Homo sapiens: one gene and its partner. The protein of the gene in region 1 purifies or fractionates together with the protein of each later gene. This does not show direct contact. Each region holds a gene or a part of one and is shown on either strand. Other genes may lie near its edges. The genes, in order: SULT1E1 and AGL.

Region 1 (4,304 bases):
AACAGTTGGTAGTTTTAAATTTTCATTATGGGATGAATACAGGTTCATTAGTATATATTATGTAAGTTTCTAACTGTGCTCAACAACATCCATTTCTCAATGTACTATTCAAGTTACAGGTAAAAATTGTGGTCATGGAATAGAGCTACCTTTTCTATGTCCATATCAAAACTACCGCATCTGTTCTTAATATAGAGAATGAGTGTGTACGACATGAACACCTTAATATTTACCATTTACAGTGTGTTTGTTATTTTTAGGTGAAAAAAGAACAACAAAGAGATTTACCAGATTTAGGGTAGGTGGCAATGACAAGATCATCTGGTCTTGCCTGGAACGCTTCCACATTATCCCAATATTTGACAAAATCTTTATACATTAGAATCCCATGGACTTCTTCAAACTTTTCATAATAGTCAAGTTCAGAATTCATTGTGGTACACTGAAAAAAAACCTCTGCTTTATACTTTGTATGTACTTAACAATATTTCACCATTAACAACTATGTATATAACGGGACCCTCCTACATACCTAGCACTTCTTAGTTGTTGCACATATGGGGCAAAAACATAGTAAAGTTGCATATCAAATAGTTTTGGTACATAGAGAGTTTTTAACCTTATTAGAAAGATGTCTAACACATAAAAGAATAGGAAAGCACAAGTGATTATGAAGTAAAATGCTTAAAACTAAATAAAAATGTGGATATATTCAATTATATTTATTCCGTGATAAATAAAAACCACAGAACCTTCAATTTCTTTCAAAATTGCTGGGGCATATAAAAAGACAAAGAGGTCCAGAATTACAGTTATTTTAGCAAATTATCCAATTATGTATATGTCAAATAACAATAAAGATCATTACATTTGATTATTATTGCCGGGTATCTAAGTCAGAGATTTTTGACTTCCTGAATATGTATCATTTTTTTAAATAAACCAAATGCTTGGTGAATGTATTTAAAAGAAAAGATGAAATTAATTACACTGTAATGGTTATATCAAAGAAATGGAATCTTGAGAGTATAAAGGATTCCTCTGTGACCTTTAAAATTACTTTTTTCCCCATTCGATCAATAAGGTAGTGGATACTCCCATTGAATGACTTGGCTAAAAATGATAAGGTTAAGCAAGATGGTTATCATTTCCTAATTCATCTCCTGATCCCATGACAATCTATTTCATGTTCAAGGTTACTAACAGAATTTTTAATTAGGCATACTTTCTTTCATTAGCTTTCAAATTCCTTTAGTATCTTGTTTTTTCAACTGCCAAACTTAGCTTATTTCAAGTTTCTGACATAGCTTCCCAACACATTTTGTCTTTCCTGACATTAGCCTTTCTAGATCTTCCTCCTGTTCACATTTGCCCAAAAACCTGCCTGATAAGTTCTTCTACACACATAAATTGCCCCAGCCCTTAGGACAATCTCAACTTTTAAAAAACCTTCCTCTACATCATATCAGATGTAATGTCACCAAAAATATGAGATTTCTATTTCCAAAATGCATATTAGCCTTATCAATAAATCACTTGTTCCCCAAGCCTTCTCCTTAGTCTCAGAAAATAGATCTTTCACTAGAAGAAATGTGTATAAAATGCACCACGATTTGTCCTGCCTATTGGTTTGCTTACTCATGTGAATTACTTTCTTGGTGTTCAGCCAAGTTTATAAGAATTGGCTTATAGTCAGCTGGGAGTGGTAGATTTATCATTAAGTGGTTGGCTGACTTCCAGCTACTCCTTCATAGTCAATTTTGGTCTGAGAGGCAAAGTAGGTGGCATGTAATAAAATATCTTTTCTCATTCTATTCCTTTTGGTAAATTGTCTCATATTACAATGTATGGATTTACTTCCTATGTGATCCCCATTTTCTCAAAAGATCTATTTCAGTTAGAAATTGTCAATTTTTTATTCTGAGTATGTAGGTCAGTTGTTCAGAAATAAACATCAAAAAAGTTGTTAAAATTGTGACTTATAAATTCAATTAAACTCAGAAAGTGTTTTTCCTTCCCGCTCTCCTTCCTCTCTTTCTTCCTTTCTTTCTGCATACTCCCCTCCTGCATCTTCCAACCTGCCTTTTATCCAGCAAATACTCCCTATGTGAATGCCTACCCTTTTCCTAGGCCCTGTAGTCAGTGCTAGAATACTATGGTGGATATAGATACATAGGGTTCTCATAGTCCCTACTTTCTTAGATTTACCTGTATGAGGGCAAAGTGACTTTTGTACATGTTTCTATCCCAATCTCCAGCACTATGACACAAAGTAGATGTTCAGAAATATTTGTTAAGTTCAATTATTAGATCAAGAAGCTCTCTAGTTTCTACTAAGTAAGGATTCACAGATTTAAAAGGCAATATATGTCAATGACCTACATATTAATTATTTACCAAGGACTTTGGATTTCTGTCATATTTATCTGAAGTTTCTTACATGAAAGTAATGCCCCTATTTGCAAGACCCCTTATCACAGGAACACAAAACTAAAAGTCAATCTCTATTCTACCTCCTTCTACCCTGCTTGCTTTATTTTCTCATTGGTAAAATGGAGAACACGTCCAGCATTCAGCACTTTTAAGATAGCAATGGTACTGTAATTTTACATTAAAGCAATAAGCAACAAAATACTACATAAATGTAAAATATTATTTTTAACAACAAATTATTTTAAAAGGTTTTAAATGCTTCACATCATTAATTAACTAAAGTATCAATCAAGACTTTGGTCTTTGTATATTTTATTTTTAAGAGCTTTGTAATACATAATTTTCATTCTATATTTTATATATCTAAAATCTAAGTATTGATATTAATAATAAAAAAGTACAACCTGTTTAGTTGATCCTGTGAAAGAAATTGATCTAGTTTATATCTCTTCAAATACCAAGGCAGATCTTAAGCTGCAAAAAAAGATGAGAACCACTTCTGCATTTGGAATGTTTCTGGTGAGTTTATATCCTGAATGCCAGAGAAGGAGGTGGAGATTAATTTGGGGGCTTGGCTTCATGAAGTCCATGATGCAATAGTTAATGTAGATGTAAATGCATACCTGCAGCTGCAGTAACCACACAGAGTCATGTTCATTCATGGAGATGTAGAAATATCCTGCTGTTATTTTTTTAATTATTTGGCTCATATTCAAATTCCCAAGTCTGCCGTCAGGGGTTGGGGAAGAAGGAGGGAGAAAAGGAAAAGATGAGAAAGAAGAGGCCTGGGAAGAGAGACTGGGAAGGGAGAATCCCTTATTCACTCATTGACAAATAATAGCATGACTATGGTTAACTTTCAAAAGAATAAACTTATTGGAGTGAAGAAAGAGAAGCCAATGAGGAAAGAAATAAGACAGCAAGGACCCTCAATCAGACCTAGCTCAGTTTATTAAGACCTGCCAAAGAAGTCATTGGGTTGTATCTTAACATGTCAATTGGAAAACACCTATTTAAACTCTTTGCCTTTAACTCTTAAGCAGACCTGAAAATTTTAAAAAGCAGATGACAGCTAAAGAAAGAATGTAAACATCACTCACCTTTCGATTATTATTTTAGAAACCTGACTTCTCTCTGCTCCCAACCACAAAATAGCATACTGTGAATTTTTCAGGTAATGATAGCTACCAACACTTGGAATTTACACAAGAGAATTAGAAAAATAAATGGCCAAGGGTTTGTGGAATCCACAAATGCATTACCTTTCTTTTCATTTTTCTGCACCTACTCTGTCACTTAAGAAAATTATCCTTTGCTCCACCCCATCAACACCTCCAACCCTGTTATTTCTTATTTCTCTATTAATTACTGTTAGATTACATTTCCTTTGAGAGGCTCACTCTTACAAGACTCTATGTTTCTCTTAGTGACTTTTAAACTTTGAACTTTCTCCTAACTAGTATTTATTTTACTGTGTTGTAAATCAATGTTTGCTTGTCCAGAGTACTTTTTAAATTATAAATAGCTTGAAAACAGGGTCTTACTCTGTAATTAGCATTTTTTTCTGGCATCTAGTAGGCTAGGCATTGAATATGTATTTACTGAATAAAAGTGGCTGATTTATTCAAGAAATATAAGAAGTTAAGGGGGCTATAGTTGTTATAGAAAGCAATATCTAGCCTTATGCAAAATAAGAGGTGTTAAGTGGTTTCTGAAAAATGGGGCTTTTCATAATAGAAAATTAAGGTAGAAAAGGAGTAACCAGGGACCCAAATTTAGATTTTCATTTTACTTTGTTTTATGCAGTCTGTCATATTATTTGAGTTAAATAAAATATGTGTTGAAAAACAATCATTAAATGTACAAATTTA
Region 2 (3,825 bases), on another chromosome or scaffold:
CCTGAGAGCCAATGCATTTCTACTTTTGCCCAAGTTAGGTTATTTTTAAAAAAACATACCTTAGACTTGTGCAATGTGTTACAAATATTTTGCCATAAGCGAAAACAAATAAGCACATTACAGTTAAAACTGTACTGTGAAAGAAACATTTTGGTTGGTTTAAAGCAGACTTTAAACCTTCTTTATAATTATTAGAATACAAAAATACTGACTATGGTCAAGTCTATTAGAAATATAATACATATAAATTTTAAACACGAATATAACTTTCAATTAATAATGGGCAATAATAACTGATGAGGCAGGAAAGTTTAGTTCCACTGAGTAAAATCTTTAATATCTAAGGAATTTCTTTGAGAGGAAAAAAACTAATATTTACCTATTTAATATATATTATTTATAATTTATAATCCTTGACTTATTAAACATCCAACAAAGTAATAAAAGAGGATATACTAACAGGGATATTTTCTGTGAACAAAAGATTTCAGTAAAAGACACTAAGAGAATGCTCTATAGTGAAACTAAGAATTTCTTCTCTAAGCAACTAAATGTACTTTTTCTATAATACAATTTGGCATTAATATATTAAGAATGTTTATATTTTTTGATCTAGGAATTTTATATAGATTTTTTGAGAAAAGTATCAGTGATGTAAACAGAGATTATGTATAAGGATATTTATCACAGCCTCATTTATTGAAATGAAATAAACTGACAACAACCTAAATATCTAATGATTGGCAGTGATTAAATAAATTATGGTAAATCTACAAGCTGGCATATTGTAAAGCCATTATAAATCATGTTATCAAAAGACATTTGGCCAGGCACAGTAGCTCACGCCTGTAATCTCAACACTCTGGGAGGCCGAGGCGAGAGGATCACCTGAGGTCAGAAGTTTGAGACCAGCCTGACCAACATGGTGAAACCCCATCTCTACTAAACGCAAAAATAGCTGGGTGTGGTGGTGTGCACCTGTAATCCCAACTACTCAGGAGGCTGGGGCAGAATTGCTTCAACCCAGGAGGCAGAGGTTGCAGTGAGCTAGGATCGCACCACTGCACTCCAGCATGGGTGACAGAGCAAGACTCCATTAAAAAAAAAATGTAATAACCACTTTTAATTTATTCTATTTTGTTACATTGTACACATTTATGTAGAGCTTTTAAAATATCTTCTGGAAAAAAGTATGGCTGAAACATGGCAGTAGGCAGGGAGGTAGAGTACATACACCATAATACTACTACAAACGGGAAAAAGGCAGGTTACAAAATTGTTTAGATAGTATAATCCTAATTAAAAAAAAAACACAGAAAAAATGCTTTTTATACATTTGCATAATTTTATAATTAGGGAAAACATTTTAAAATTAGAGCTACAATTATGAAGGGATAGACTAAGAAATAATTACAGAAAGAATTAAAACATGAAGTAAAATACTTAGTGACTGAGAAGCATAAACATTTACATCTCACAAGAATGACTAAATTTATCTTTAGGAGAAATAGTGTCATTTTGAACAAGTACAAACAGCAGAGATTAGCTGTCTGGGTATATGTGTACAACCTGTCCCCTGTTAAGTTTATACAAATACTGTTTTTATAATTACACAAGTATTCAGAGAACTTGCAGAGCAAAGGTTAAAACTCATCTAAAATCTCCAAAACAGTATTTGGATCAGTGCTCTACCTTCAGGAAAAAACCCCAATAATTCCCAAGCTAAGTCATTTATTTATATAATATATATGTATGATGTTCTCATAGATTATGTAAATTATAAAATATAAAAGTTAACTTAATGGGATAAGATATAAATGAAATAAATAATATTTAAATAATACATTTTATTTATTAGTGGGTAGAAAAAACCTTTTGGCTCTCACTAAAAATTAATATTGATAATATCTCTCAGTGAAAATGTAACTAAATAAATTTCATTATTTTAAAAAGTCTTGGTTTTAATATTTTGTAATAAAGTGATTCAAAGATTTCAAGTTCTACTTATTTTGGGTAAAATCATATAATGATGAAAGAAGCATTTCTAAAAATATATATTCAAAATGCTTTCACTATAGCAAGGGTTGGCAAAGTATATCCAGCCTAATCCCCATTTCTGTAAATGAAGTTTTACTGGAACACAGCCACATCCATTCATGTATGTTTGCCTATGGCTGCTTTCCTGCTACAATGGGAGTTGAGTCGCTCCAATAGGGAGTGCATTGCCTGAAAAGCTGCAAAGATTTGCGATCTGAACTTTTGCAGGAAAATATGTGCCAAACTCTGCTCCAAGCATCAATTTCCTTCAAAAAAGCACTTAACTTTCTCACTCATGTTTACATCAAAGACTTAAGTTTTTATTTTTTCTGAAAATATTTTCTAAGTATCATACTATCTAATGCTACTTGTTATTTCTGAAAAGGACGAATCTCAAACACTTTCTAACTCATCTTTTAAGTTCGATCACTCCTGTGAGGTAAAAGAACTATTCTTGGTTACTCTACCTCTCCTTACAAAGTAATATAGAGACTGTTATTTAAGATAATATAACCCGTAAAGCTACTTAACCTAGCTTAAGTAAAAGTGCAATGCATGGCAACATACTGCAAACAAATGAGGGTGTGATTGTCAACCCCTTCCAGACCTACAACCTCTACGTTTTCTTCTGAGTATGCCTTTTTTGTTTGTAACTTATCTGACATACAAACTGAGAGCATAATTCATATATTAACGTAATTCAATGTTGCTAACATATAACAGACTTAAAAAACTAAAACAGGTAGAGAGAAAAGAAAAGAGCCCTCTCCCTCTTCCCCCCTCCCCCTCCCCCTCCCCACGGTCTCCCTCTCCCCCCTCCCCCTCCCCACGGTCTCCCTCTGATGCCGAGCCAAGGCTGGACTGTACTGCCGCCATCTCGGCTCACTGCAACCTCCCTGCCTGATTCTCCTGCCTCAGCCTGCCGAGTGCCTGCGATTGCAGGCGCGCGCCGCCACGCCTGACTGGTTTTCGTATTTTTTTGGTGGAGACGGGGTTTCGCTGTGTTGGCCGGGCTGGTCTCCAGCTCCTAACCGCGAGTGATCCACCAGCCTCGGCCTCCTGAGGTGCCGGGATTGCAGACGGAGTCTCATTCACTCAGTGCTCAATGTTGCCCAGGCTGGAGTGCAGTGGCGTGATCTCGGCTCACTACAACCTCCACCTCCCAGCCGCCTGCCTTGGCCTCCCAAAGTGCCGAGACTGCAGCCTCTGCCCGGCCGCCACCCCGTCTGGGAAGTGAGAAGCGTCTCTGCCCGGCCACCCTTCGTCTGGGATGTGAGGAGCCCCTCTGCCCGGCTGCCCAGTCTGGGAAGTGAGGAGCACCTCTTCCCGGCCGCCATCCCATCTAGGAAGTGAGGAGCGTCTCTGCCCGGCCGCCCATCGTCTGAGATGTGGGGAGCGCCTTTGTCCCGCCGCCCCGTCTGGGATGTGAGGAGCGCCTCTGCCCGGCTGCGACCCCGTCCGGGAGGTGAGGGGCGCCTCTGCCCGGCCGCCCCTACTGGGAAGTGAAGAGCCCCTCTGCCCGGCCAGCCGCCCCGTCCGGGAGGGAGGTGGGGGGGTCAGCCCCCTGCCCGGCCAGCCGCCCCATCCGGGAGGTGAGGGGCGCCTCTGCCTGGCCGCCCCTACTGGGAAGTGAGGAGCCCCTCTGCCTAGCCACCACCCCGTCTGGGAGGTGTACCCAACAGCTCATTGAGAACGGGCCATGATGACGACGGCGGTTTTGTGGAATAGAAAAGGGGGAGAGGTGGGGAAAAGATAGAGAAATCAGATTGTTGCTGTGTCTGTGTAGAA

Evidence for each region.
Region 2: the proteins of SULT1E1 (region 1) and AGL fractionate together in Homo sapiens (co-fractionation; one large-scale study listed by BioGRID). This does not show direct contact.

Annotation. Positions count from the first base shown.
Region 1 is NC_000004.12:69,857,212-69,861,515, forward strand, and holds the start of SULT1E1 (sulfotransferase 1E1), read right to left. Parts: upstream 2,935-4,304; 5' UTR 2,838-2,934; exon of another isoform or gene 443-2,837; 5' UTR 434-442; coding exon 289-433; intron 1-288. UniProt on the Homo sapiens protein: Sulfotransferase that utilizes 3'-phospho-5'-adenylyl sulfate (PAPS) as sulfonate donor to catalyze the sulfate conjugation of estradiol and estrone. Is a key enzyme in estrogen homeostasis, the sulfation of estrogens leads to their inactivation.
Region 2 is NC_000001.11:99,856,841-99,860,665, reverse strand, and holds part of AGL (glycogen debranching enzyme), read right to left. Parts: intron 1-3,825. UniProt on the Homo sapiens protein: Multifunctional enzyme acting as 1,4-alpha-D-glucan:1,4-alpha-D-glucan 4-alpha-D-glycosyltransferase and amylo-1,6-glucosidase in glycogen degradation.